Homo sapiens: one gene and its partners. The protein of the gene in region 3 purifies or fractionates together with the protein of the main gene of each other region. This does not show direct contact. Each region holds a gene or a part of one and is shown on either strand. Other genes may lie near its edges.

The links.
Region 1: the proteins of DHX9 (region 3) and NCBP1 purify together in Homo sapiens (co-immunoprecipitation; 3 studies listed by BioGRID and IntAct, with this or other methods). This does not show direct contact.
Region 2: the proteins of DHX9 (region 3) and DICER1 purify together in Homo sapiens (co-immunoprecipitation; 3 studies listed by BioGRID and IntAct, with this or other methods). This does not show direct contact.
Region 4: the proteins of DHX9 (region 3) and IGF2BP3 purify together in Homo sapiens (affinity purification with mass spectrometry; 2 studies listed by BioGRID and IntAct, with this or other methods). This does not show direct contact.
Region 5: the proteins of DHX9 (region 3) and RALY purify together in Homo sapiens (affinity purification with mass spectrometry; 3 studies listed by BioGRID and IntAct, with this or other methods). This does not show direct contact.
Region 6: the proteins of DHX9 (region 3) and DDX21 purify together in Homo sapiens (affinity purification with mass spectrometry; 2 studies listed by BioGRID and IntAct, with this or other methods). This does not show direct contact.
Region 7: the proteins of DHX9 (region 3) and EFTUD2 purify together in Homo sapiens (affinity purification with mass spectrometry; 2 studies listed by BioGRID, with this or other methods). This does not show direct contact.

Annotation. Positions count from the first base shown.
Region 1 is NC_000009.12:97,643,644-97,648,204, forward strand, and holds part of NCBP1 (nuclear cap-binding protein subunit 1), read left to right. Parts: intron 1-1,473; coding exon 1,474-1,581; intron 1,582-1,967; coding exon 1,968-2,089; intron 2,090-3,848; coding exon 3,849-3,918; intron 3,919-4,364; coding exon 4,365-4,561. UniProt on the Homo sapiens protein: Component of the cap-binding complex (CBC), which binds cotranscriptionally to the 5'-cap of pre-mRNAs and is involved in various processes such as pre-mRNA splicing, translation regulation, nonsense-mediated mRNA decay, RNA-mediated gene silencing (RNAi) by microRNAs (miRNAs) and mRNA export.
Region 2 is NC_000014.9:95,102,030-95,105,529, forward strand, and holds part of DICER1 (endoribonuclease Dicer), read right to left. Parts: intron 3,218-3,500; coding exon 3,042-3,217; intron 2,098-3,041; coding exon 1,317-2,097; intron 1-1,316. UniProt on the Homo sapiens protein: Double-stranded RNA (dsRNA) endoribonuclease playing a central role in short dsRNA-mediated post-transcriptional gene silencing.
Region 3 is NC_000001.11:182,876,774-182,881,334, forward strand, and holds part of DHX9 (ATP-dependent RNA helicase A), read left to right. Parts: intron 1-56; coding exon 57-130; intron 131-1,247; coding exon 1,248-1,400; intron 1,401-2,476; coding exon 2,477-2,637; intron 2,638-3,723; coding exon 3,724-3,835; intron 3,836-4,490; coding exon 4,491-4,561. UniProt on the Homo sapiens protein: Multifunctional ATP-dependent nucleic acid helicase that unwinds DNA and RNA in a 3' to 5' direction and that plays important roles in many processes, such as DNA replication, transcriptional activation, post-transcriptional RNA regulation, mRNA translation and RNA-mediated gene silencing.
Region 4 is NC_000007.14:23,467,222-23,472,366, forward strand, and holds the start of IGF2BP3 (insulin-like growth factor 2 mRNA-binding protein 3), read right to left. Parts: upstream 3,271-5,145; 5' UTR 2,890-3,270; coding exon 2,715-2,889; intron 2,427-2,714; exon of another isoform or gene 2,355-2,426; coding exon of another isoform or gene 2,015-2,354; intron 1,322-2,014; coding exon 1,261-1,321; intron 1-1,260. UniProt on the Homo sapiens protein: RNA-binding factor that may recruit target transcripts to cytoplasmic protein-RNA complexes (mRNPs). This transcript 'caging' into mRNPs allows mRNA transport and transient storage.
Region 5 is NC_000020.11:34,080,911-34,084,208, forward strand, and holds part of RALY (RNA-binding protein Raly), read left to right. Parts: 3' UTR 1-3,298. UniProt on the Homo sapiens protein: RNA-binding protein that acts as a transcriptional cofactor for cholesterol biosynthetic genes in the liver. Binds the lipid-responsive non-coding RNA LeXis and is required for LeXis-mediated effect on cholesterogenesis.
Region 6 is NC_000010.11:68,954,980-68,958,969, forward strand, and holds the start of DDX21 (nucleolar RNA helicase 2), read left to right. Parts: upstream 1-1,190; 5' UTR 1,191-1,246; coding exon 1,247-1,333; intron 1,334-1,667; exon of another isoform or gene 1,668-1,769; intron 1,770-3,990.
Region 7 is NC_000017.11:44,854,446-44,858,687, reverse strand, and holds part of EFTUD2 (116 kDa U5 small nuclear ribonucleoprotein component), read left to right. Parts: intron 1-1,530; coding exon 1,531-1,613; intron 1,614-3,683; coding exon 3,684-3,770; intron 3,771-4,005; coding exon 4,006-4,132; intron 4,133-4,242. UniProt on the Homo sapiens protein: Required for pre-mRNA splicing as component of the spliceosome, including pre-catalytic, catalytic and post-catalytic spliceosomal complexes. Component of the U5 snRNP and the U4/U6-U5 tri-snRNP complex, a building block of the spliceosome.

The DNA of each region.
Region 1 (4,561 bases), on a different chromosome or scaffold from region 3:
TCTCCCCAGCTCATACAGTGGCCACTGTGTACTGAATAACCCATCTAGAAAGCTGAGCATTAATTTTTGTCTTCCCTTTGCCCTCTCGTACCATAGGTGTTCCCAATCCCTGTCAATTCTGTCTCCCTAATTTCTCTCAAGTCTGTCCTTTCTTAGTCTCCAGGGCCTCTAGCATAGTTTATGCCTTCCTCCAGATGTTCTTAATAGCCTCTTAACTGATCTTTTTGCATCTAGATTCTCTGCTTTTCACTTTGTGTTCTACAGTGGCACCAGACTGGTCTTTCTATAACTAGGCTCTGCACATGTTGGTTACTGGTTAAAAAAACCTTAGTTCCTTCCCATTGTCTACAGTGAGTGGTCTTAAAAGCCTGGTGCACAAGATGATTCCTTGGGTTTCAGGAAGTGAATATTAAGAACTCTTATTTATCTTAAGTGGAAATGAAATTAAACCTTACTAATAATACATAGATTAATGGTGATCCAGTGTATATCATAAATACATATGTATGTGTTGAAGATATGTGATCAAATTCTTTTTTACTGAGTACACAATCAAAAAAGTTTGGACACCCATCAGGCTATAGGATTAAAGTCCAGACTCTTTAGCCTGACCCTTTATGGTTTCCCCAGTCTGTTTCTCTATTCTTGTCTCCCATATGCTCCCCAGCAATATCAAAATAACTTGCAGATCCCTAAACACACCTTGTTTTTGAACCTCTATGCCTAGACTGCCCTCCTTGCTCACTACTTGAGGCTGTTGCTATCCTTTATGACCTAGCCTAATTGTTACCTCCTTTGTGATGCTTTCCCCAACTCCCTTTGTCATTGTTCCTAAAAAATGCTTAATTTGCCTTTTAGTGTGGGAGTCATTCCTTTGTATTGAGATTGTGCTTGTTCCACTAGAATGGGTCCCCTAACAGTGACTTTTAGTAGTGTTTAGCAATAGCACACTAAGCACACCCAATAAATATGTGTTCTGTAATTTCCATTTCTGTAATTCAGTGAAAATTACAGCCAAACAGAAAAGGAGATTATAGGTTGAAGTAGCTAGAATATTTTACAATCTGGATTCTTGATGTAGTATAGCATAGAAACGTATGAACTCACAGATTACTGTCCTTTATATAGTCTTTGTTACAACTTCTCAATTCTGCCATTGTAGCACAAAAGCAACCATAGACAATATGTAACTGAATGAGCGTGGCTATTCCACTAAGTTTACTTATGGGCACTGAAACTTGAATTTCATGTAATTTGTATATGTCATAAAATACTCTTGATTTTTTTTTCACGCATTTAAAAATGTAAAAACCATTTTTAGTTCCCAGCTATGCAAAAAACAGGTAGTAGGCTAGATTCAGCCCTTAGGCTATAGTTTTTTAGACCAATAGTTTAGCCTATACAAGATTGCTTATTTTGTAGTTATTATAAAGAACATTTAGGTTTAATAGCAGAAATTGTTTGCCCCAACAGGTCCGTTTTTTATCTGATCTTGTGAATTGTCATGTGATTGCCGCCCCATCAATGGTTGCTATGTTTGAAAATTTTGTAAGCGTAACTCAGGAAGAAGATGTACCTCAGGTAAGAGAACCCCTCATGCTGAATCTTGAGGGGTTCTTGAGGGGTTACTGAATCCTGGTACTTCCATATAGTACCAGGAATTTTTCGCTGATAACCCATTAGCAATAAAGAAAAAAATAACAGCAGACTATCACACTTTAAGTTCTTACTATCTAAAAATTAAGCTGACTGGCACACTGGTGGGTTCTCATAATATCTGTATGTTGATTTAAATGATGCTGTCTAGTAAGATTAGAACTAATATATCTAGAAATGCTCTGTATAAACCAGATGTCTTATTTAAGTCCTATTAAATAGCTTCCATAGGATTTCATTCAAGAATAAATAAAATATGAATGAATATAATTAAAGCATATTTTAAACTTAACTTTTTAAAAATCCTTTAGGTGCGACGAGATTGGTATGTGTATGCATTTCTGTCATCTTTGCCCTGGGTTGGAAAGGAGTTGTACGAAAAGAAAGATGCAGAGATGGACCGCATCTTTGCCAACACTGAAAGCTATCTTAAGTAAGGGCACAGCTCATAGTACTCTTTGTTGCTTAGGTAAAGGATATCTTATATCAGTGATACCATTTGAGTTTCTCAAAAATAAGCTGTAGAGTTCCTGAAGGTATTTTCTAGGTAATCCTGTTCTCCTGCTGTTTTAACTCACTGAGACCTCAAAGTAGTCAGATATGGTTTGCTTACTTTTGCCAGTGCAAAGGACAGTTGGCAATATAGCTTCTTTTAAGCTGCTTTTATATGTTTGTTTATAAAAGACATAAAACACCCTAGTGCAATAGTTCCTCAAATATTAGTGTGGATAAGAATTACCTGTGGTACTTAAAATACTCAGACCCCAACCCCCAGACCTGATAAATTATACAATTTGAGAGAGAGGTTTGGACATCTGTATTATTAACACATTTCACAAGTGGAGAACCACTGTCCTAGCACATACAGTATATTTAGTTCATGTAAATTAATCTTAAATCAAGCTCTTAAAACAGTGGTCCTTAACCCTCCATCCAGCCAGTACTTCTTAAGTAATATGACACATTTCAATTAAAATAGTCACATGTCTTCCCATTACTCATCTCTCCTAAGCCAATGTAAAAGCTTGGTTTATATTGTTAGATACAATAATAATAAATAGGTCTTTTTAGTAAATTTATGCTTAACTATCCAGCAACATGGTAATGGTTATGTGGCCCTTAGGTTTTTACAGATTGATTTTGTTGTTAAGTTTCATTTTCTCTTTTTTAAGTGCTTTTTTTGGATAACTGTTAATAGCTACTTAGTTGGTTATTAAGTAAAGTTAAAAGAAGCTTAAAAAATAAGAATCTTTTGGCCGGGCGCAGTGGCTCACGCCTGTAATCCCAGCACTTTAGGAGGCCAAGGCAGGTGGATCACCCGAGGTCAGGAGTTTGAGACCAGCCTGGCCAACATGGTGAAAACCCATCTCTACTAAAAAATACAAAAATTAGCCGAGCGTGGTGGTGGGTGCCTGTAATCCCAGCTACTCGGGAGGCTGAGGCAGGAGAATTGCTTGAACCCAGGAGACGGAGGTTGCAGTGAGCCGACATGGTGCCGCCACTGCACTCCAGCCTGGGCAACAGAGTGAGACTCCGTCTCAAAAAAAAAAAAAAAAAAAAAAAGAATCGTGTGTGTGTGTATACATATCCTTTCTCTTTTTTATTCAAATGATAGCCCAATATACACACTGTTCTTCACTTGGCTTTTTTTTTTTTTCTTACTATAACTTGGATTTGTTGCATAAAAATACTTAACTCTACTTCATTCTTTTTAACAGTTGTAGGGTATTTCACTTTTTAATGTACCATGATTTCCGTAGTCTCCTGTTGGTGGACGTTTAGGTTATTTTCAATCTTTTGCTCTTATAAACAATGTTTCAGTGAATATCTTTGTGTATATGTTTTTATGTACATGTGCAAATATATTTATGGGGGATATAAATTTTTAGAAATGGCATTGCCGAGTTGAGGGTTCTAAACAATTTTGATAGATTTAGTCAAATTACCTTCCAAAGAGATTATACTTTCCCAAAGAGATTATATCAGTTAACCTCTTTGTCAACAATGTTTGAGACTGAATCTTGACCTGCATCTTGATGATACACAGTACATTATCAAAACAGTTGATATCTGCCACTCCAGTAGGTAAAATGTTATTTCATTGCTTTAATTTGCATTTTAATAACTGTGAGGGTGACTGAGCATCTCTTGTTTTTAAAAGCCTAAATGTAGATTTTCATTTTTATCTTTAGAAGACGCCAAAAGACTCATGTACCCATGTTACAGGTATGGACTGCTGATAAACCACATCCACAAGAAGAGGTAAATGGATTTCAGTCCCTTGTGATACAAACACAGTCAGCTCTTGAATAGATTCTTATCTCTGTAAGATACTCAGACCATTCCATTTTACCCTTTGACTGTGTTTCTACATTTCATGATAGTTCCTTCTCATAGCTCAAGGTGTATGGTAGGTCTTTAATAGATGATAGAATGTAATTGAAATATTCCCTTGTTCTTTGGAATGCCAGCTATTACAGAGTTGACATATATTTATTTAAATGCTTAATTTGAAAAATGTCAAAACAGACAGTTCCAAACAGGTAGACTTTGTAAGTAAAATAAAAACAAAAACTTAGCACCTTTTTTTGTACCATCTTACAAGTTAGCTTACTTTTGTATCCTGTATTTTAAAGGGTAGTGATTTTTTCATTTTGTCTAGTCAAAATGTTAATTATATTAATGATTAAAAATTAATCTGTCTTTAGTATTTAGATTGCCTGTGGGCCCAGATTCAGAAATTGAAAAAGGATCGCTGGCAGGAACGGCACATCCTAAGACCTTATCTTGCCTTTGACAGCATCCTGTGTGAAGCACTGCAGCACAATCTGCCTCCTTTTACACCACCTCCTCACACTGAAGATTCAGTGTACCCAATGCCAAGGGTCATCTTCAGAATGTTTGA
Region 2 (3,500 bases), on a different chromosome or scaffold from region 3:
AAAATAAAAGTTTCTACCTCTCAGAATTATAAAAATTAAATTAGGTTTATATGCATATATGTGTATATATGTGGGTGTGTGTACGTGTGTGTGCGTATACGGTTATCTTTTAGAGTAGTGCAGAGTAAGCACTTTTAAATTGTTAGCTAAAATTATTTCTTCTGAAATTCTCACTCACCTCAGCCCCTTCCTCTCTACCAGAACTCTAGTTCTATCCCATTCTCTGCTTCTGCTGTTGGTTTGGATATGCTTTTCAACTCACACTACATTCTGCTACCAGATTAATCATTTTAAACTACCACTTTATTAACATTAATAGTTCCTTGCTCTAAATTCCTTCAACAGTGCCTACAACATTCAAAACACGTGCAAACTCCTTAGCCCAGCATTCAAGGCCTTCCACGATACAGCTTCACCCCAGCTGCCTTTTCAAGCCTTTTCTCAGGTATTTCCACACTTCTGACTGCTGCCACGGCTGCTTCCCTGACGCTGACATGCTCTGCCATCTGTTCACTTTGCTTATGCACTGTCAACTTGCCTCCTCCATTAATGCCATCCTTGATTCAACAGTGATGCTCCTTCCTTCTGAGTGCTGCAAGTGATCAGCAGCTTTCTAAGGTATTTGTCCAGGAGGCTCATGTTGCCTTGTGAGACTTTTTTCCATTTTTCCCCCATAACTTGAATATCTTACCTTCATTCCTTTTCTTAAGTCTTAGTCCATGCTGAGTTTAAGAGCCCGCCCTTTCTCTGAGCTATCGAGCGTTAATTACTCAGAACTCTGGTGTCACCCTCTTCACACTGGAGAGCAGCCAAGCTCTGTGAAGCTTGTTACTCTTCTCCGCTCCACTCTCCAAAACTTTGGAGATGAGCTCCTCCACAAGACTTGTGTCTTACTCATGTCTGTATGCCTTGTAAGCCAAGACGTACCCTCTCAAATAAATGTTTAACTCAACAAAGCAGAAGCTCCTTGACTGACTACAATGCACATTTCTTCATATCCCCCTCAGGATCAAGGGGTGTACACACTTGCATAGCTTCCTTTGAACTGACTTTCAATCAAAAAGTAAGGCACGTGGAGATCAGCTAAGCCCCAAAACCTGAGTGTGGGATTGGTGTAAAGCAATACTCATCAACTGCCAGGTAGTTCTGCCACAGGCTTTCGCTGGCCCTGGTAGAACAAGGGAGCAGCTGTGCTTGGCCGGTGTAGCAATTTCTGAGCATGATACGTTCTCATCCTCTGAGATTATCCAACACTGCAAACCACTTTCAGGCACACTGAATAATTAACTGCTCAAAATAAAAAAATCATCTCTTACCTTTTTGCTTCTCATATATGAAAGGCGGCCCTCATGCGCATCAGGGTAAGTGCAAAATAGATATGTGGTGATGGCATGCTTTAAAAAGGAGTCGCCAAGCATTTCAAGCCGCTCCAGGTTAAATCCATCACTAGCGTTTGACAGAGTCAAAGCCTGAAGAATAAGTCCAGGATTGGGGCCAAGAGTCCTTGAGGAGTACCCAATAGAAGGGCTCTGCTCAGAATCCATCCTGCCCTTGAGCACTTGAATAGTGTCTGTCGTACCAGGCATTACGGCCATCACAGGACTTCCATCTGAGGTAGATTTGTTAGCATTTCCATCAAGGTATTTATTACTCAGGAGAGTACATTCATCGCTGGGCTGGGGCTGGTTCTCGTAACTGTATAAATTCTGAATGGAATATGAGGTAGTTGGTTGCACGGGTATTTCCTGCTTGTAGTAATTTAGCTGATTTCCTTGGCAAAAGTCTCTGTTAGCTAAATCATAACTGCCATTGGCGAGATTTTGATTGTAAGAAAGACCATTAATTGCTGTAAGATCTGCTGAAACTTCAACGTGGAGCTTACCAGGGGACTCGCTGAGCAACGTTCTGCAGTTCACAGACATTTGGTCATGATTTTCTAGAGAGGAGGTTCTATTAGCACCTTGATGTGCAGCATTTTCAGGGACAATTGTGCTGTGCTTACAGTAATTATCATTTTCAGCTGAAGAGGAGTTAGAAATTGAGATGAAAGATTTGCTGTCAATAGATTTTTTCCACCCGAAGTCTAAGTTAGGGTATCTGCAAAGACATTTTTATAACTTTACATCAGATTCTTCAAAACAGCTAGGCTGAGAGCAACAGCAATTTGAATTTAAAAACAAAAACAAAGATCCCAAAAATGTACTCCTAAACTTTAGAATAGAAGCAAGTTTCCAAATTTTTAATTTACAGTGTAAATTATAAAGTGGGACATGGTTTTATCTACTGCTTTAATCCCTGGCCCTAGACTCTAGGTGTGGTAGTTAAGAAGGTCACGAAGCTTGCAGGCATCCTGCAGGACCTGGGGCCTAGCTTCACGGGTTGGAATCCCAGGCACTCTGGTTAACCCGCTGAGTAACTCTGGGCAACTTACATAAACTCTCTGTGCCTCAGCTTCTGCACCTGAGAAAAGGGCTAACAATTCCTATCTCATAGCACTGTCTTAATGATTAAATGAGCTAACTAACACAGGGTACAGCATTTAAGCTAGTGTTTGGCACTATAGCAACTAACCAATAAATATTGTGGTTATTCCTATTATATTTTAAAATTCCTTCAATCCCTAGAACAGTCTTGATATTGCCAATTGGATAACCAGAACTAATGTGAGTGTTTAAGCCAACAGTTTCTTTAGAATGCAGAGATTTTACTAATGGGAAGAAAATAATGAAGACAAAGAACATGCTAAGGCTATTGCTTTTTAACATATATTTGGATTTTTAAAAGAAAAAACAGACTGAAAATGCTGATGCAGTAACAAAGAACAATTTCATTCTCACTCCAACTGTTATGGCTTAAGCAGTAATGGTTATTTCTGACCTCAGATTCTCATCTCCCTCTGAGACTTGACAAGACATAAGATATCCATTATTTTCTTTTTACTCTTTTAAGAATTATTTTATATACAATTTTAACTTAATTCTGTTCTTTTGCAAACAGGATCTCATGATCTGTGTTCTTTCTGGCTGACTGCACAGGCATACCTAAAATCCGCAGGAAGTGATCTGACTCCCACGCCAGCATCGCTGGCAGTCTGGGCTCTTAGCTCCTCTGCAGTCAAAAGGCAGTGAAGGCGATAAAGTATGCTGGGGAGACAAACAGCTTTTCTCCACAGTGATGCTGGAATTGGATGTATAGCACAGAGTTCTGGAACCAGTATCTTCAAGTAAGGGGAAAAATGGACAGATAAATACAAAGCGCACACACAAAAGAAAAAAAAAAAGACCAATTTCACTAATGGATAAAGAAAATCATAAATGCTAGTAAAACTTAATTTTAAAAAATATTTGTAAAAATAATCCTCTAAGGCCAAATGGGATTTATCAAAGGATTTATGAGAATGATTTTGTGATATATTAATGGGCCAAGTATAAAAACAAAACTCTCAATACTTACCAAAAAGAACATTCAAATAACATTCAACACATAATACTAATTAAAAC
Region 3 (4,561 bases):
CCTTTTAAGTAACTAATAAGAATATTTTCTGGAGTGTAATTTTTCTTTCTTCACAGGTTATTTTGTCCACAAATATTGCTGAAACAAGCATTACCATAAACGATGTTGTTTATGTCATTGACTCCTGCAAGTAAGTTACTGGGAAACCTATTTGTCTGCTCCAGTGTTACTAACTGGAAACTTCTTACCAGTTAACAGAATCAAAAACACCTTATTTTTAAACTCCTGTGTTCTTAAATCTCCAAAATTATTGTGCATCTATATAGCATTATAGGTAATTGATAATTAAGAGTAATTATTGTTGATTACTGCAAATCAGTTACGGTAGAAAGTGACAAAGCTTGAAACTGTAACTGATGATTACTTCTCATTGCTCTTGGCTGCTGGTGTCTCACTTATTTCCCATTGGGTGTTTCCATTGATCACTGCCATACTATAGCATGCTGTTTGATGAATAAAGATGACCAGTGTTTAGCACATGACAAATATCCTACCTTGAAGGACACTCCTTTAAGGATTAAGGGTCTTCATTTTGGTATGAGATGAGCCTGGAAAAATATACCAGGAGACATTCTGTGTAGATACAGGAATTACATGGTAATTGATAAATTGAAAGGACAAAAAAGTTGAAACTTGGTTATATCTGGCCAACTTGTACCCCATGACTTCTCTTTATAATTCCTTAGTCTGTCCTGACAATGAAAACAATTTGCTGCCAACATCCATTTTAGGAAATGATGAATAGCATTCTGTGCCAATCCCAGTCATTTAGTGGCAGCTGTCTCTGTATGTAACATTGAAGGAATCTGAGGTTACTTGGGGGTTCAAATGGACCACACAGGCATCACTAGATACAGATATCCTAAAAGTTACACTAAACTTTGGAATAGAGATGACTTAAATAATTACTTTCTTTTGTGTATGTGCCATATTCCATTTAAATGCTTTGCATTTGTTAATTTATTTAATGTTTACCAAAAAAACTATAAGGTAGATAATGGCATGCAAAGTTTGGCCAAGGCAGTTCAGCTGATAAGTGGCAAGTGGATGTTACATTGCCTTTTAGTAGGTTGACAACTAGGAGTTTGCAGTCAGATTGCTGATTCTTACTTGTGCCATTCATGAATAGACATCACAAGTAGGTATGGCTTTAACTACATAGTGGAAAGCATTCACTACTTAGTGGATATATAATAGTTATTGATAATACACATGAGTCTTAGAATTAACCACTTTTTCCTATGTAGGCAGAAAGTGAAACTCTTCACTGCTCACAACAATATGACCAACTATGCTACCGTATGGGCATCAAAAACAAACCTTGAGCAACGGAAAGGGCGAGCTGGCCGAGTACGGCCTGGATTCTGCTTTCACCTGTGCAGCCGAGCTCGTTTTGAGAGGTAAGACCCATTCTTGACCTTTAGTAAGGGATTTTTGTTCTGTTCTCTGTAGGGACAGATGTGTGCAGTTATGTAAACCTGCCAATATAAGCTGATCTAAGTCTTGCCAGCCATGTTGGAATCAGGTGTAAATGTTTCGTAAGAATCTTCATCACAAATCATTTAGAGAATAAGCCAGATTTAGAAATATAGAGACCTAGATTTTAATATTATTTGTGCCTAATACATTGTATAACACTAAGTGGTTACTCCTTAGGCCTGCATTTCCCTCATTCTATAAAATATTAAGTTACTTAACCTCTCTTGTTTCCTCAGTTGTAAAAAGAATATAAATAATGCCTAACCCATAGGGTTGGTATAAGTATTAAATGATTTAATAATGTAAAATACTTTGAACAGTGTATGGCACATCATGATCTCCCAATAAGTGTTTGCTGTTGTTAATTTATACAGGTCAGATATCTCTTTTAAAACTGAAATGCTTGGGACCAGAAGTGGTTTTGGATTTTTTTTCTTGGTAATATTTGCATTGTATTTACCAGTCGGGCATCCCTAATCTGAAAATATGAAATCCAAAACGCTCTAATGAGCATTTCCTTTAAGTGTCATGTCAGAAGTCAAAAAGTTTTGGATTTTAAAGATACATCTATAAGAGCCTTTCTAGTGGCACTAAAATTACATGAACTAGGAAGGTGGGAGGTTGTAGAGAAATGTTAGTATGAGTTATCATCCTACAAAAAGTCTTGTTGTCGTTTTTAACCCATGTTTGTCAACAGGCAAGGCCTGAAGAGACCATGGGTGGAGCTAATAACATTCGCGATTTTGGATAATTTTTTCATTTTTCTTCTCAGCCTAAAAGGCTATCAAGCTGTGAGGATAAGTCAGAAACCACTATGCAACCAGATTAAATTTTGTCAACAGTGTGTATAGTGAACGATAAAAGGTCCGATGGTAATTGTAAAATAAAAGGATGAGGAAAAGGCAGCTCTGTATCCCTGATTACCTTGCTGCAAAAAGTTTATTAACATCTGTGTATACACAAGGAGGATGGTTATTTTATGCTTATTTTCTCTTAGACTTGAAACCCACATGACACCAGAGATGTTCCGAACACCATTGCATGAAATTGCTCTTAGCATAAAACTTCTGCGTCTAGGAGGAATTGGCCAATTTCTGGCCAAAGCAATTGAACCTCCCCCTTTGGATGCTGTGATTGAAGCAGAACACACTCTTAGAGGTACTTACAAATACAAACCTACTTGACGCAGATATTAATCATACCATCTGTCTTGTTCTGGCAGATAACACTTACAAATGAATCAAGATGATGAAGATGTAGTCAACAGGGCTGTGATAATAATAGTAAGGCCTCCAGTCTTACCTTAGATAGTTAGTATAGTCACTGTTCTAATGAGCAATGAGAAGGAAGAAAGGGACAATGTGAGTCTTTAAAAAAGAAAAGAAAACTTAAAAAGGCATCTCTTAACTATGTACTAAAGATCAGAACATAACTTACTCATGATACCCACAGTATTTCATATGAATCTCTTACAACTTTTTTTGTTTTTTTGAGACGGAATCTCGCTCCATTGCCCAGGCTGGAGTGCAGTGGCGTGATCTCAGCTCACTGCAACCCCCACCTCCCAGGTTCAAGCCATTCTTCTGCCTCAGCCTCCCGAGTAGCTGAGACTACAGGCATACACCACCACACCCGGCTAATTTTTATATTTTACTAAGACAGGGTTTCACCATGTTGGCCAGGCTCTTCTGAAACTCCCGACCTCAAGTGATCCACTCACCTCAGCCTCCCAAAGTGCTGGGATTACAGGCAGGAGCCACTGTGTCCAGCCTGGAACATTTATTTTTTCTTGCTAAACTTGTTAGAGGTACAGTGAAAATTAAGGGCATTGGAGCTAGATCTGAATTTGAATTTTGAATCTAGCATTTATCTACTATGTAACTTCAGAATTTTCTCTAGATTTTATTTTTTTTAAAACATTAACAGCTGGGTATCAGACTTCTTATGGCATGTAGAAACTTACGCTGCTATTATAGTTAATACTGTATTTATAGACTTCATATGAATTGTATTTGTTTTTATAACCTACAGGATTTAGTTGTAGTACCTTTATGTTGGGTGCTCCAGATTTTGATTTTGTTCTATTTTTGAGTACAGAGAATTGTTGGCCGTAGACATGGTATTAGCGATTGGCTTGACAAAAGAGGAACTCTAAACTGTCTTAACCTTAATTTAGAGTAATGTTTTGTCTGCCTAAAATTAGTGTTCATTTGTTTCTGCTCACAAAGAACTATCTCCCCACAGAGCTTGATGCATTAGATGCCAATGATGAGTTGACTCCTTTGGGACGAATCCTGGCTAAACTCCCCATTGAGCCTCGTTTTGGCAAAATGATGATAATGGGGTGTATTTTCTAGTAAGTGCTTTGTTTTATTTCTCTTCGTTAAGTGGCAGAATAATTTCAGAATCTTCTCCTCCCTGTAAAAGCAGTATTGGCTCAGATAGACAAAAAAAAAATCCTAAATGTTCTTCAGGGAAGTAACATACCTAGATATTGAGAGCAGTGTAACACTAAAAAAATGAACAGTTCCAGTAGGTGGATATCTGGGCCCAATATGGGGAAAAGGGCACTGATTTCTCAAAAGTTAAAAGCAAGCAGGCCAGGCAATGTGGCTCACACCTTGAATCCTAGCACTTTGGGAGGCCAGGGTGGGAGGGTCCCTTGTTATTAATAGTTGGTCTTGAAAGAGCGGTGTCAGGAAAAGAGGTTTATTTTATCAGAAAATGTTGAAGATTAAGAGATTTGGTATGATGGGGAAGAGAGAATATAAAAGGAAAAATATACTTGGTCATAATTTATGATAAATATGTGGCCATTAGAGCATCAGAGCATTTTTTTCTTTCTGATTCTGAAGAGAGCAGCTATAAAGTTCTTTGTTAAGCCAGTTTCATTGCAAATAAAAGTAGAATCATAGCCATAAAGACTGCAACCCACAGTCGACAGTCCTACCTGAGCTGCTGGCAACAACATTGTGATCTAGTCTGGATTTAACTGTCTTTGTGTATTTCAGCGTGGGAGATGCTATCTGTACCATTGCTGCTGCTACCTGCTTTCCAGAGCCTTTCATCAATGAAGGAAAGC
Region 4 (5,145 bases), on a different chromosome or scaffold from region 3:
GATTTGTGAAAATGCTTTGCCTGGGAAGAGAGCTGAAATCTACACAGGCATACAGATGAGATGTTTTGTAGCCATCTATTTCTGCACAGCACCAGAGAAATGCATAGCAAACCCTCCTGCTCTCCAGCACACACTCTCTCACCAATATCTAACCAGATACACGCAGCCCTGATTTAAATTAACTTTCAGCTTATTATTTGGCTCAGGTTGGGAGTTGGGGGGATGGGAGAGGGGCAGGCAGAAACCCTAACCCCACCATGCAAAATCCAGAAAGGCTTAGAGGCCCACCCCGGTGCGACTGGGAGGGAGCAGTGCCTTTCCAATTGCAGTTAGAGCCGGAATCTATGGTGTGAGTTGGCTGAAGGTTTTAAAAAACAAAACAAAACAAAAAAATAGAGCCGGAATCCGGCCTGCTCTAGCGAAAGGAAAGGAGTCTCCACTGCTCCATAAGGCTTCATAAGAAAAAGAAAAAGGGAAAGAGCCATGTCTCCAAAATGCTTCAGAGGCTAAAACAGTCTATAAACATTCTGTAAAGCGACATACTACACACATGATCTCGGAGACGAGAAATCCCCGTCCTTAAGTAGTACGAATCTTCCTGTCTTCATCTTTTGGTGGTTGTAAGCAAAAATGTACCCAGGAGGAGTGGGGTGGAAAGCGGGGAGACAAAGGTGCTGACTGCAGGAACCTGTAGAACTTCGGAGTGACTCAAAGGCACTTCTGGGCCAGAGAGGCCCCAGCGTTTACGCACGCGTTCCAATACCCCTGGCGAGCTCACAGGGCAGAGGCAAATTCCTCTCCACTCGGCCGCGCCCACGGCCTCCCAACCCCGGACAGAGAAGGAAAGGAGGGACCCCCGCGTGTCCGCAGCTGCTTTCGCCTCTCCTGCTCCTGGAGGGGTGGGGGAATCATCCGCTGCTTCCCAAGCCCTGCAAACCCCCCAAACTGCTTGTTGGGACCCATTTCCCGTAGGAGCAATTTGACCCGCTCGGACCGAGGACATTCAGCTGTGAGCTTTCGAGAGATTTTGTAACCAATAACCATAATCCCGCGGCAGAGGCCACAGAAAAGCTTTCAATTCCTGCCCAGCATCATCAACACACACACCCCCGCCATAAACTTAAAAGCAAGGATTAAAGACCGGAACACCACGCCACACGGCAGGGGGTAAGCACCAGAGGACAAGAAGTTCTCAGCTGAGTCTCTCCACCCAATAACGGAGTGAGAACAGAATCGGGGCAAACAGAAGCAGCAGCTCACCTTTGCCTTTTTGGGACCGAGTGCTCAACTTCTATGGGTTTCCCGTGCAGTTCTATTTTACCTGCGGACACACAAGAAGTGAGACGGTCGGCCGAGTTCAGCGGCTCTCCCTGCCCGAAGACCCGCACAGCCCAAGCGGCGACACAAATGGCCTCCTGAGGCCCTCGAAGGGCCCCCGAGGCCCGGACGCGGCTCCAGGCGGAGGGAGAAGCCGACCCCCTCGAGCGGCGTGGGCATTTAACTCGCAGATGGTTGGGGAGCAGGGTCCGCTGGCGGGCCCACTACTTGGGTATCAGTCCAGTCTCCAAGCCTCCCCCACCCACCCCTGGGGGCCACCAACACCACGAGGCCCGCAAGAGGGACGCGGCCCACCCTCTCACCGCCCTGGACACGCTCCACAGGGCAGACTCGGGGCAGGGGGCTCCCCTGGCTTTCTTCAGGAGGGGGCGCCCTGGCCCTGCCCTCTGCTTCAGCCCAGACCCGCCGGGAACACTCAGCGGTGGGCTTGAGGAAGACAGGGAGTGGCGAGAAAGGGTCGGGGACGGCAGGGGAGACCACGAACGGGAGAACTGGCAGAGGCGCAGCTCGGCACAGGCTGAACCAGGCGCGAAGGACGGCGAGGCGCCCGCACCACGTCTGAATTGATTAAAAGGGAAGCCGAAAGGCACGGGGCTCCCATGGGGACCCCAACGCAGCCTTCCCCCTGGGCGTCCTGCTCCGCCCGGCACCGTCCCTCGCCCTGGCGGAGCCATACCCGGAGGCCGCAGCCCCGCGCCAGGGCCCGGAGAGCGGCGGGCGGCCGGTGCGTGGCGGCGACTCCCTTCCAGGCGACCAGCCGCCCCCGCCCACCTGCCCCTATCGCTCGTCGGACCAGGGGAGGTGGAACGGGGAAACCGGGCACACACTCTCTCCTCCCACAGGGTGGGGAGGAAGCGCGGGGCCGCCTGTGCGAGGCACCAGCCTCGCGGTCTCACTCGGCAGCACGGTCGAGGCCACTTTCCGTTCTCCACGGCCGGGGGTTTCGGGGCGCAGCACAGACAGCGCCGTAAATAACGACCGAGGAAAGCAGGAAGGAACGAGGCACAGGCGGGCATTCTAGCTCGGCCCCCGAGGCCCAGCGTGCCGGGGCCTGGAGCACGCGCCTGGGCCCGGGCGGGGCGCCGGGGGAGCGCGCCTCCCCCAGCCCCGCGCCCCCCTTAGCCAGCGCCGGGGCTTTCTTGACAGCGCGTTCGCCCTCACCCAGCAAACCCCGGCCGGGGAAGCAGAGCCGCGGGCCGGAGTGGGAGCCGGAGCTGAGGAGAGCCCCGGCCCCCACGCGCGTGGGTGTGGGCGCTCAGGCCTCACCCCCGCTCCCCCAGCGCGCCGGGCCTGGGGCCCGCGGAGCCACCCGGTGGGCCTGGGCGGGCGGTGCAGGGCTGGGGCGAGAGCCCGGGTGGGGCCAGGCCCGGGCCCACCTGAAAGCGCCTCGATGGCCTTGAGGGCCCAGCTCTCGTCCGGGCAGTCCACGAACGCGTAGCCAGTCTTCACCAGGAAGGGTCCCGACACCGGGATCTTGGCGTCCTTGAAGATACTTTCTAGGTCCGAGGGGGCGGCGTTCTCGCTGAGGTTTCCGATATACAGTTTGTTCATTGTGAAGAGTGGTTGTTTAAAAAAAAATAACGAGAAAAAACGAAAAATTAAAACCACCCACGGTGATGGATGGATCCAGCTGGTTTTGTTCCCCTCGTCTTCTCGCCTTTAAAATACACAAACACAGTAAGAACCAAGCACAAGAACGAGGAGTGAAAAATCAGATCCGAGGCTTGTTTTTTCCTTGTCTAGATGTGTTTTAAAAGAGAAAGAAAAGAAAAAGCCTAGCTACAACCCAAACGCATCCACCAGTCTTCCTAAGTCTTAGGAGGAGGCGGGATTAGCAAGAGAAAGGAGGAGGAGGAGGGGAAAAAACTACTTTTTGTCTCTTCCTTCCCAACCCCTTTGGCTTCGGCCAGCGGACTGTGAAAATATCACACTACGTGAGGCAGGCGCCGCCTCCCCATAAAAAACCCAGAAGGGTGACTGGCAGGAGGGAGGGGAGAGGAGGAGGAGGAGGAGGGAGGAAGGCGCAGGAGGCGGAAAAAATCCGCTCCGAGTGTCCGGCTTTTTGAATGAGCCACGTGTTCAAACTACAAATCAACGTCTCACGTGAGGAATCCCAGAGCCTCAATTAGAGTGGGTTTCGGAGAAAAAAGCGAGCGAGAGGAAGAGGGGGAGGGGAAACGAGATTGGGAGAGGGACTCTGAGAAGGGGGAGGAGGAAGAAGGAAAATGCTAAAGGAACCGCAGCCGGCACCAAGCGGGGCGCTGACGGTCACAACTCGAGTTTGTAAAGGGTTATCTGGTCTGGGCGGATCCTGGGAGGGAGGGCTGGAATATTGATTTTTTTTTTTTTAATGAGGAAATGGGCAGAGGTACTAACAGGCAGTTCCTCAGCGCTAGTTACCGTAGTTTTAATCATTCGATTTTTCAAAATAGGTTATTAACAACAAAACCAGAGTCACAATCCCGAACTCGCCTGGTGGCTTTAATGGCATTAGAAGTGTAACCCCAGCAAAGCCGCAGGCACGTTTCTAAGGCTGGCATGGACGGAAATGCTGCGAGGAGGGGTGGGGGAGTGGGTGAGGGGGGCAGGGGGTGGGGGCAAGACAGGCGGGCGACGCGCCCCACCCCGTGCGCCCTTCTCGGGCCCTGGGCACCGCGCGAGTGGGGGCGGCCCGGCCCCGGAGTGGTGGGGGATGGGATCCCGCAGCGTCCTGGGCGGGTGTCTGGGCGACACCTCCTCCGCCTCCGCCTGCGCTCGCGGTGGCTCTCGGCTTCGCGTTTGCCATTGGTTGCGCGATTCAGAAAAGGCTCCAGGATAAATGAGGCCGGGGGCGGGCTTGGCCACTGGTGGGGGAGGGGAGTGCAGGGGCGGAGGTTTCTGGCTAGGGGCTGGGGTCGTCGGGGGCCTGGGCCGCTGGAGGAGAGAAGTCAAAGTGGGAAAAGTCGGTAAAGGGAAACCCTCTCTTCCTGTAGTTTTTAAAGGGGGAGGAGTGGAGTAGGCTGGTACTTTTATTTAAGTAATTTTAGTTGGAGAACTTGAGACTTAAAACTGGAAGACCGTCGTGCATTACCCCTAGGTGGTATTCGCATTTGAAAAATTGTTCGAGTCTCTTTCTGCCTCTTTTCTGCCTGGATTTGGCCATGAGAGCCATACATAATTTTCTCTATATGTAATGAGTACAATGGTGGTTGTCGGGGGAGGATTTGGGCCCGGTGGAGCCTTGTGGGCCAACAAAATGTGAACTGGAGACGAGCAATACGGAAACGAAGGCAGTGCTGGGGTTCTAGTGGAATCTCCAACTGTCGTTTAAAGATTGTGTACTCCACTCAAAGGTTTCATTTGCACCAGATACTTGTGTGTTTTTAACAGGTATATTTTTAACAGGTATTCTATTGAAAAGATAGAAAATTCTAATTTTTTAAGTGAAAGAAATTCTATATAACATGAAAATATAGACAAGAATCTTTAATGACTTGGTACTCTTACTGGTAGAAAAAAGGTATCCTGAATAGAGGAAATATTATGATTTACACTGGAAACATCTTCGGTAATTGATACAGCCTTGCTTCTCTGTCAAAACCGTTGTTAGCATTTTAAAATGTGTATTTTTCATTTAAAAGATGAATGGTAGACTTAAACATGGGAATTGTTGCATGATATAAAGAGTATTTACATTTTGTCTTTTAAAGGGAACTTACTTTGTAATTTTGTGTTAAGGAACCGGAAGGTGTCAGATCATCCATTTTAAATGCAACTGTTCTTTCTTACAGGTTTTTCTTTCCTGCCAAGCGAATCCAACATTTTAAA
Region 5 (3,298 bases), on a different chromosome or scaffold from region 3:
AGCGTACTCCAGTGACAGCAATCAGTAGGAAGTTTGCATCCGGAGACACGCAGCCTGTCTGCCCCTGTCTTGGGCCACCCGTCTAGACATTTGTTCTCTAACAATCAGCCGGGTTCCTTCAAACGTGTGCTGCTTATACATGCTCATTGTGTACTGCTAATGTCACCTACTTCCCCCTTCATTCCCCACAATGAATGGATCCATTTTCCCCATGTTCAAGTTCCCAAGAGAGAATCGACTGCCACTGTAATTTTTTTTCCTAATCACTCATAGGTTACAAGTACCTACCCTGGTCCAGTGAACTGCGGGATTCATATGTGGCCACTTAGGCTGGTCTCGTTGGTATGGAGCTGTGGGAGGGCAGCACCCAGAAATAGGCTTTGTTCCAGGCCTGGCACGTACTCCTCCTGCTCCTACTTTCTCTACCTGGGAAATAGCCGCTCAGGACGAAGCTGCTGCTGTGGTGTCGCCACCTCTGAGAAGTCTCCCAGACCCTCCGACTGCTCTTTAATTGCCTGTTCTCTCCTCTGGAAGCCTTCCCCCAACACAGAAAAATTCAATCCCATCATCAAAAAGGGCTTTAGGTTTTCCCTCCATCTTTACGTGTTGATCAAAGTTTGCAGATCTGCTGGAATCCTTATTGAAAACTCCCCATTTCAAACCAACCCGGTCTACAGCCTCCAGGGAAGCTTCCTCCTGGGCTTTGGCTCCATGTTTTGGTAGAGGGTGGAGGCTTTGGGCAGTGCTCAAACTCCACCGGGAAGTCTCTCTCACTGAGCAGCCCTCCTGCCTGTCATCCTGGGCAGGCGAGCACTCTGAGGCCCCAGTGTAGCTCTGTGCTTTGATATTCCCAAGCTCTGCTGGGGCCTGACTAGGCCAGCCCCAAGGTGGCCAGAGTTCTGGCTTCATACCTGAGCCAAAAGCCCCAATCCATGCTTGGCCATTGCCTGAGTATTAGCTGCCCCAGGGGGATCACGGTCCCCATATATTTGCTTGCCATGGACCCTGGGCAGCAGGGAGAGAGTAGAGATTTGTCAAGAGCCCATGGTGGAGGCTGAGGCCCTGAGGCCATGAGATGCAGGCATGGGGTGAGAAACAGGCCCCTTGGAATTGGGCTGGGCCTTGGCCCAGCTTAGTCAAATCAAAAGGCTTCTATTTGGAGAGCTGAAGAGGGTGTACAGAGGAAGGGGCTAGGTCTGCAAGGAGTGCCTCATCTCCCTGAAGAGCTCTCAGTGGAACATACTTCACCCATCCATGTACCCACATCTTTCCTTGCCCAGAAGGCGAGAGCCAGCTATAACAGACCCATTTCAATACCCTGGCAAGTCATTACTGCCCTTAGCTCTTGGTGTCCCCATCTGTGAAACATGGGGGACAGCTGCTAGCCTGGATTGGAACTTGGGCAAAGTCCAAAGAATGGGATTTAGAGCTGAATGAACCTCACACTGAGGGCACAATAGCACTAGGCACTGCCCCCAGAGCCTAGTGCTATATGCCTGCTGCAGGTCCTACCCAAGCATGCTTTACTGAGGAACTCAACGTTTCAGAGCTTGAGGGTCAGGTTGATCATGGGCTTGTGACCATAGGCTTCCTTAGTATGCCAGGCTTGGAGAACCGTGAGAAAAGCAGGGAAGATACCTTCAAGGGTAGCAGGCATCAGCTCTACTCACCTTGGCCCATAAGGCTTTGCCTGGTCATGCTGGCACCGGGTCATATGCTGGACAGGGAGAACGAGAGTCCCATCCTGGAACTCCAGAAAAGCCCCTGGATGCTCCAGCCCCTGGGAAAGCACACAGCCAGGCCCTTGGGTGGGAGGTTGGCTTCTAACAGTGCATACACATGCCCTTCCTCTGAGTCGGGGCAGCAAAAACATCCATTCCGCTGCGCAACAGTTGTCATTTTTCTAACATCTGAAAACTCCAGAAGGAGATGGTGATAAATGTGGTACCGGATTCTGCCTAAAGGATCAGTCTTTAGATGTTTTCAGATTGAAAGCCTCATTTGTGATCCTCACAGCCATCTTGAAAGAATAGAGCAGCCAGTGGGTATACTGGATTGTGAGCTAAGAGGCCTGGGACTTTCCCCCTGTTGCTGCCAGCCAGGTTGATGACCCTGGGCAAGTCTTTTTCCTTACCAGGTCTCAGTTTCCTCAGCTGTAAAATGAGAGGTTGATCTGGATCAGGGATAGTAAATGGGCCTTTGTTCAGTTACTGACTGTTGTATAACAAACCACCCCCAAATTTAGTAGCCTTAATAAACATTTATTAGCTCCTGAGTGAGTGGCTTGGCAGTTTGGGCTGTGTTCAGTGTGGTGGTTCTTATCTCATCTGGGCCCTCGTGTGGCTGAAGTGAGCTGGCAGATCAGCTGGGGACTGGCTGGTCTCAGATGGCCTCGCCCGCCTGTCAGGTGGTTGGCTGGGCAACTGGGCCACACGTTCCAGCATCTAGCAGGCTGACCCAGGATTCTAGACATCATGGCTGAGTTCCAAAAACCGCAAGAGAAGACAAGCCCAGTATGCGAGTGCTCTTGAGGATATTGCTATGACGTATCTTTTGGCCAAAGTAAGTCACATGGCTAAGCCCAAATTCTTCTTAACAGGAGGAGCTTCAAAATATGGCCATATTTAAAAAATCTACCTCAGGACTCATTTCACTTGCCAACTCAGAACTTTTAGTAGCAGCTGCCTGGAGTGCCTTTTGAGGATCTGCAGCAATTTTCAGACTGTTTGGAAATACTGACATGATAGTTTGGCAGTTTCTCTTATGAGCATGGAATTCAAGTGTGGGCACGTGAGCGTCAGGTATTTGCCATCCCTGGCCAGGTTGACCCGTAAGGTCATAACCTGCCCCATAGGATGTTATATGCAGTAGGCCTGTCTGACAAGACCACAGAAATAGAGAAGGCAAAGCAGAGCAAAAGATTCTGAGCCAGGCATCCTTGGTTTTCATCCCAACCAGATCATTGATTGATTGAGGTTTTAGGCAAATCAAAATCCCTCCACCAGTAGCCAGATTCTTCATAATAAACTTCCTCCATAACAGTAAACCATTTCCTGAACACCTGCTGTTAAAAAGCACATTTTACATTTACTTAATCTCCACAACCACCCTCAGTAGGTGTAGTAAGGACTTCTGGTTACAAGTTACAGAAACTGAATTCAGTCCTGCTTAGTGGGAGGAAGTTTATTGGCTCACAAATTGTAAAGTCCAGGGATCTTCAGACATGGGGACTTGGGTTCAAAAGCTGCCATCGAGAATCCGGTTAGCCAGGCATGGTGACACGTGCCTGTAGTCCCCG
Region 6 (3,990 bases), on a different chromosome or scaffold from region 3:
GAACCTGTCTCAAAAAAATGAAATAGATAAAGACTGGGCGCTGTGGCTCATGCCTATAGTCCCAGCACTTTGGAACGCTGAGGCGGATGGGTGGATAACCTGAAGTCAGGAGTTCGAGACCAGCCTGGTGAAGATGGTGAAGCCCCATCTCTACTAAAAATACAAAAATTAGCTGGGTGTCGTGGTGCAGGCCTGTAATCCCAGCTACTCGGGAGGCTGAAGGATGAGAATCGCTGGAGGCAGAGGTTGCAATGAGCTGAGATAGCGCCACTTCATCCAGCTTGGGCAACAGAGCGAGACTCCGTCTCAAAAAAACAAAAAGGCCGATTTTCAATGTCAGATATTATTCTATCCCATTTTTGAAATTTATTTTTTCTTTTATATATATGAAATATTTTATTTATATATTATATATGTGTGTGTATATATAGATATATAGACATAGGGGTTTTGCTGTGTCGCCAGGGCTAGTCTTTAAGTCCTGGCTTCTTTGGAGGCTGAGGCAGGAGATTCGCTTGAGCTCGGGAGGCAGAGGTTGCAGTGAGCCCAGGTCACGCCATGGCACTCTCCAGTCTGGATGACAGAGCGAGACTCTGTCTCAAACCCACAAGACCTCTCTCTCCCGCTAGTCTATAAAGCTTCTTGACGATAAGGCTTTTGTGCTTGTTAGTGAATACTAGTCCTGTTTCTCCTACCTGACACAGTGAACGCTCATAAGATGTTTGAGTGCTCGCATGAATGAACGACCAGACCCGACTGAATTATTTTTTTTCTTCAGGCTCCTGAGTCTGGTCGACACTTTCAGAGTAGACGTTTCCAAGAGATGATTAAGGACACACATCCGCGCGTCTGTACGTGCAAACTCGAGCAATACAACATAAAGCACTGAAGATGGCGCCACTCAAAAGCAACTAGAAGCCTTCATTTATCAGGCTGGGGCTAGGGAAAATCTGGCCAGTGTTGAAGAATACAAAGCTAACCTTTGCAATTCCTTGCGGTTCTACCGTTCCGTAGGTGCCTTCTAGACCAAGGGCCGCAAGTGGTCAATTCACTAAATCCAACCACAGTCACAGGCCGCTGCTTTGAATTTACCACGCGGAAAGCAGCTTTTCCTGTGCTTCCTGCTTCCCCCGGAAGTGCCTTGCTACGGGAAGTGACGAGAGCCGGGTGGACCCAGGGTGGGGAACTACCTCTTCCTCTCCACGCGGTTGAGAAGACCGGTCGGCCTGGGCAACCTGCGCTGAAGATGCCGGGAAAACTCCGTAGTGACGCTGGTTTGGAATCAGACACCGCAATGAAAAAAGGGGAGACACTGCGAAAGCAAACCGAGGAGGTGAAACGGAGGGACCTGGGGCCAGGAGGGACGCTGAATGGAGCGGAACCCCGGGGTGCGGGAGAAGTGCCCGGGCTGGGATCGTGGGAGCGCGCGGCGGATAACAGCGCGTCCAGACACCGGGCGTGGGTCTTGGCGGGCGGTCGCCCAGGAGTGGTGCGCTCCCCGGGCAGTGGACGCGTCGTTTGCCCGACCGAGCCAGGTCCGCCGTGCGCTGACCTCTTCCTCTGAGCTTATAGGCATCCACAGGTCGGAACTCTGGTAGAGAGGCCCTGTTGGAGCTCGGGAGAGGGCCGGGTGTCCCACGTGGTCCCCGGCGACTTGGGCGCGCCTCACACAGTGCGCAGAGTTGGACCTTCAGTCAGGCTCCACGTTGTTGGCTAAGACAGAACTCCCGGCATGAGCGTGCGCGAAGGAAGTTACACGTCAAGTCAAAGTGGGTACTGGAGGCCGGGTGCGGTGGCTCACGCCTGTAATCCCAACACTTTGGGAGGCCGAGGCGGGCGGATCATGAGGTCAGGAGTTCGAGACCAGCCTGGCCAACATAGTGAAATCCCGTCTCGACTAAAAAATACAAAAATTAGCCGGGCATGGTGGCGCGCGCCTGTAGTCCCAGCTACTCGGGAGGCTGAGGCAGGAGAATTGCTTGAACCCGGGAGGCGGAGGTTGTGGTGAGCCGAGATCGCGCCACTGCACGTCAGCCTGGGCAACAGAGCGAAACTCCATCTCAAAAAAAAAAAAAATGTGGGCACTGGAGCTTTAGAGTAGACTGGAGAGGTCTTAACTTCATCTGCGCACGTGGGCCGCGTCTTTAGTGACTTTTTAAACTCTCGTAAGGGAAGTAGAGTTTGTTTTCCGGTAAGCCGCCCTGAGAAGATGACGTAATTCAGTTATTACGAAAATCTGTTTTACAACTGTTTGACCCACATGAGTTGACTGGATTTCCCATGGAAATGTAAAGGCATGTGTTGCGGTGCTGAGTGTACACCATATTTTTTATATAGGCCAGCAGTGTGCAGTAGTTTTAACCTTGATAGCTGACCGGTGCTTTGCTGTTGCTTCCTAGTGATTTAACTTGTGACTGAGTCTCTGTTCTGAGATCAAGTCAGTGGGAACAAAGATTGTCCTTGAACTTAGGTTGTACGCTACTTAGAATTAACTTTCCTTGTTGGTTTCTCTGTCTTTTGATATGGAGTTCTTACAATAGCAATATTTTAGAATTGTAGGAAGCCGCGGCAGATTTGTACTCAGGTGCAAGAAGGTCGTGGTCCTGGTTTACATTGCATCAGTCAATTGCGTTCAATTTGGCATGCTCAAATCCAGAGGTACATGACCAAACTCTGTTATATTCCAAAAGAGACCACCAGGATGGGAAACTCAGTCTTATTTGGTGGAACCAAGGGATGAAAACGAATAAAATTTTGGAAGGAGACTAGCTTGTTTTTTGTTGGCTAGGAGATTATTCTTAATCTATGATTTGAGAACAGAGACCAGGCCTGAAATTTCCGGGAGGCAGAATTCAGCGTAATATGTACTTCCAACATTGTTCTGGGGCTCTGCCAGAACAGGCTTCTAAGGAGGCTACAACACATGTCTAATTGTTTTCAGTAGTATGAAAAGTTGTAGAGGGTCAGAAAGTTCAAATAGGAGCCACAGTCATCTGTCTTACTTGGTTCTAAGGTGTCACTCCTTCCATATTCTTGTAACTTATTTATTTTATTTTAAATTAAGTACATCTTTTTTACACATGAGTGATAGACTGTGAGTTTTTATAACTTTTTGTTTCATAAAGTGTCTCTTTATTTTATTATTATTATTTTTTGAGATGGAGTTTTGCTGTCGTTGCCCAGGCTTGTTCTCCATGTTGGTCAGGTTGGTTTCAAACTCCCAGCCTCAGGTGATCCGCCCACCTCGGCCTCCCAAAGTGCTGGGATTACAGGTGTGAGCCACTGCATCCTGCCCTTTTATTTTTTGTAGAGACAGAGTCTTACTGTCACCCAAGCTAGAGTGCAGTGGCATGATTATAGCTGACTGCAGTCTTGAATTCCTGGGCTCAAGCAATCCTCCCACCTCAGCCTCCTAAGTAGCTAGGAGTATAGGTGTGCTGCTACACCTGGCTAATTAAAAAAAAAATTTTTTTTTTTGAGACAGTCTTGCTGTGTCGCCCAGGCTGGAGTGCAGTGGCATGATCTCAGCTCACTGCAACCCCCGCCTCCCGGGTTCAAGCAGTTCTCCTGCCTCAGCCTCCCGAGTAGCTGGGACTACAGGTGCGTGCCACCATGCCTGGCTAATTTTTTTGTACTTTTAGTAGAGATGAGATTTCACTGTGTTAGCCAGGATGGTCTCCTTCTCCTGACCTCGTGATTCGCCCTCCTTGGCCTCCCAAAGTCCTGAGATTATAGGCATGAGCCACCGCGCCCAGCCTAAATTTTAAACTTTTTCAATAGAGACGGGGTCTCGCTATATTGTCCATGCTTGCCTGGAACTGCTGGCCTCAAACAATCCTCCTGCCTTGGCCTCCCAGAGTGCTGAGATTACAGGCATGAACCACTGCACCTGGCCCTAAACTGTCTTTGTATAAATTCATTTGCTCTTGTAAGATAGGCAAAGTGCAGAATTCCTGTTTTGGAGTTAGAGGCTGCAGTGAGCTATGATCA
Region 7 (4,242 bases), on a different chromosome or scaffold from region 3:
GAGGATTGCTTGAGCCCAGTTTGAGACCAATCTGGGCAACATAGTGAAACCTCGTCTCTACAAACCAGCCCAGTGCAGTGGCATGTACCTGTAGTCCAGCTACTGGGGGGCTTAGGTGGGAGGATCACCTGAACCTAGACTGTCAAGGCTGCAATGAACTGTGATTGTGCCATTGCTCTCCAACCTGAGCCTAGGAGGTCATGGCTGCAATGAGCAATCATTGTGCCATTGCTCTCCTTTTTGAGATGGAGTCATACCCTGTCTCAAAAAACTAAAAAATAAAAATTAGTCAGGTGTGGTGGCTTGCACCTATAGTCCCAGCTACTCCGCAGGCTGAAGCAGGAGGATTGCTTGAGCCCAGCAGTTCGAGGCTGCAGTGAGCTACGATCATGCCACTGCACCCTAGCATGGGTGACAGAGCAAGACCCTGTCTCAAAAAATAAATGCATTGAAAAATAATAAAACAGGCCGAGCACGGTGGCTCACGCCTGTAACCCCAACACTTTGAAAGTCCAAGGCGGTTGGATTGCTTGAGGTCAGGAGTTCAAGACCAGCCTGACCAACATGGTGAAACTCTGTCTCTACTAAAAATACAAAAATTAGCCAGACATGGTGGCGGGCACCTGTAATCCCAGCTACTCAGGAGGCTGAGACAGGATAATTGTTTGAAACCGGGTGGCAGAGGTTGCAGTGAGCCAAGATCGCACCATTGCACTCCAGCCTGGGTGATAGGGCGAGACTCTGTCTCAAAAAAAAAAAAAAAAAAAGGAAAAAGAAAATAAAGGCTCCCAAGCCAAAGTTATTCTTGGTCCTTTGTTAGGGAAATAATTGCACAATTAAACAATTAACCCATGGGTGGTGATTAGGTCTCAGAGTGGGTGGTTTCAAGGAGAGGGTGGGGACTGTCTCTCCCAGATTCTTTGTCAAGCCTTGATGTAGCCCCTCAAACCATGTGTTGCTTGGCCTCCTTGTCCTAGTTGAGTCGTATTTTCTCCAAGGCCCTGTGGAGGACCCTCAATACCCCTCTTAGACTCCTCTACTGATGTATCTAGGAAGGAGGAAGGATTGGTGTCATAGAAAACACTGGGTTTCCTGGGCAGCAGACCATGTTGGGGCTTCAGGGCAGAGCTTCACTCAGATGCTGTGGGTTGAGAATGACATGGGTGCACGCCAGTGGGTCTCAGCACCAGCTCTGTCAGACCCATGGGGGTTGTTCAGTGAATGGTGGTAGATGGCTGAATGGATGCTGAGAGCTACCTTTGAAGACTAGAATTAAGGCCCTAGTTTGATACCCCACTTACTCTTGGCTCAGGAATCTAATTTCTTTACTACAGTAAGTTTTCTTGGGCTTTTTGGTGATGATTTGGACAGCTCTTTTAACCTGCTGTTGTACTTATCACTTGTGCTGATTAAGGCAGTTGGGGTTTTCACAGAGGTAGTGTCAAGGGAGCTTCTGAATTCCCTTAGGTAAATGGTTGCCCTTCCAACAAAATTAGACCTCGCTTCAGTAATTTATTTTCTGTTTCCCAGGTGGCTGACCCAGTTGTCACGTTTTGTGAGACGGTGGTGGAAACATCCTCCCTCAAGTGCTTTGCTGAAACGCCTAATAAGAAGTAAGCTGGGAGCACAGTGTCCCTGGGACTGCAGCCTCCTGGACACTCTCTCTCCTTTATCTTCCACCTCTACCCCCACCATGAGCACTATGCACATAGAGACCTCTACAGCTCAGAATAGGGGGTGCTTACAATACTTGAGTTTCACTCCAGCCCTCTCAGCCCTTCTGCCTTTGAACACAATGACATGGGATTATTCGCCTTGGGTATTCCCAAGAGGAGTTTCATAACTGCCACTTTGTCTCTATAAAATGACTATCTTAAAAGTTTACTCCAAATCTTACTCACTTTTTGTTTTTTTGTTTTTTTTTTTTTTGACACAGGCTGGAGTGCAGCCTCAACTTTCTGGGCTTAAGCAATCCTCCCAAGCAGCTAGGACTATGGGCACACACCAGGCCATCTGTTAATTTTTTTATTTTTTGTTGTCCAGACTGGTCTTGGACTTTTGGGCTCAAGTGTTCCTCCCATCTTGGCCTCCCAAATTGTTGGGATTACAGGTGTGAGCCACCATGCCCAGCTTAAACCTTACTTTTTTTTTCTTTTTTTTAAGACAGTCTCGCTCTGTCGCCCAGGCTGGAGTACAGTGGCACGATCTCGCCTCACTGTAGCCCCTGCCTCCCAGGTTCAAGCAATTCTTGTGCCTCAGCTTCCCCAGTAGCAGGGATTACATGCACGCACCACCACACCTGGCTAATTTTTTGTATTTTTAGTAGAGGTGGGGTTTCGCCATGTTGCCCAGGCTGGTCTCGAACCCCTGACCTCAGGCAGTCCGCCCGCCTCGGCCTCCCAAAATGCTGGGATTACAGGCATGAGCCACCACGCCCAGCTTAAACCTTACTTTCATAAAGACCAGTAGATTGAAATGAAAGAAAGATGAGCCCTTTGCCCTTTTTGCTCCACCTTGCCCCTGATACTGTGGCTTTTTTTTTTTTTTTTTTTTTTTTGAGACAGGGTCTCACTTCGTCACCCAGGCTGGAGTACAGTGGTGCCACCATGGGTCACTGCAGCCTCAACCTTCCGAGCTCAAGCGATCCTCCTACCTTAGTTAGCCTCCCAAGTAGCTGGGACTACAGGTGTGCTAACCACACCTGGGTTTGTTTTTCTTTTTTTTTTTTTCTTTTGAGACATAGAGTCTCACTCTGTAGCCCAGGCTGGAGTGCAGTGGCTCGATCTCAGCTCACTGGAACCTCTGCCTCCCGGGTCCAAGCAATTCCCCTGCCTCAGCCTCCCGAGTAGCTAGGACTACAGGGAGTGAGTGTCACCACACCCAGCTAATTTTTGTATTTTTAGTAGAGATGGGGTTTCACTGTGTTGGCCAGGCTGGTCTCGAACTCCTGATCTCATGATCTGCCTGCCTCAGCCTCCCAAAGTGTTGGGATTACAGGCATGAGCCATCGCACCCGGCTGGCTAATTTTTTATAGAGATGGGGTCTCTTGCTTTGTTGCCCAGGTTCTGTTTGTTTGTTTGTTTGTTTGTCTGGGGTTTTTTTTTGTTCTGTTTTGTTTTTGAGACAGAGTCTTGCACGGTCGCCAGGCTGGAGTGCAGTGGCACAATCTCGGCTCACTGCAACCTCCGCCTTCTGGGTTCAAGTGATTCCCCTGCCTCAACCTGAGTAGTTGTGATTACAGGCATGTGCCAGCGCACGCCACCACGCCCAGCTAATTTTTTGTATTTTAGTAGAGATGGGGTTTCACCATGTTGGCCAGGGTAGGCTCGATCTTCTGACCTTGTGATCCGCCCACCTCGGCCTCCCAAAATGCCGGGATTACAGGGGTGAGCCACCGCGCCTGGCTGTTTGTTTTTAAGAGGCAGTATGTTGCTGTATCACCCAGACTGGAGTGCAGTGGTGTGAGCCATAGCTCACTGCAGCCTCAAATTCCTGGGTTTCAGTGATCCTCCTGCCTTGGCCTCTCAAAGTGCTGGGATTACAGGTCTGAACCACCACGCTTGGCCCCTGTGGCTTTCACTGATGTCACTTCCTCAGCTGTCCGTCTTGTTACCCTTTTCTTAGTAATGCCTCTTCTGCTGTTCTGTTAGCCGTCCTTACCACCCATTTCCATTCTGACCAGGAACAAGATCACCATGATTGCTGAGCCTCTTGAGAAGGGCCTGGCAGAGGACATAGAGAATGAGGTGGTCCAGATTACGTGGAACAGGTGAGAACAGGGCTCTGACGCCAGGGTCGAAAGGAGGCAGGGATGCCACAGTTTAACTGCCGGGTCTCTAAGAGCACACATCTTTCTGGGGAGCATTTATGTCTTTGCCTTTGCTCTTGTTCTGGGCACAGTGGGTAGGATGAAGTGACTGTCTTCCAGGAAGGGAGGGTCTGTGGCTCCAGGACCAGCAATCACAGAGCTGGCTGACAGCTCCATTGTCTCCTCCCTTCCCCAGGAAGAAGCTGGGAGAGTTCTTCCAGACCAAGTACGATTGGGATCTGCTGGCTGCCCGTTCCATCTGGGCTTTTGGCCCTGATGCGACTGGCCCCAACATTCTGGTGGATGATACTCTGCCCTCTGAGGTACAGCAGAACTGATGGGAACTGGGTGGCGGTCTCTTACCTCTGGAGTGGAAGAAACTACAAAGTGTTCTTTTCCCAAAAGTATCTTGTGTCCTCTGGTGAAGGACAGT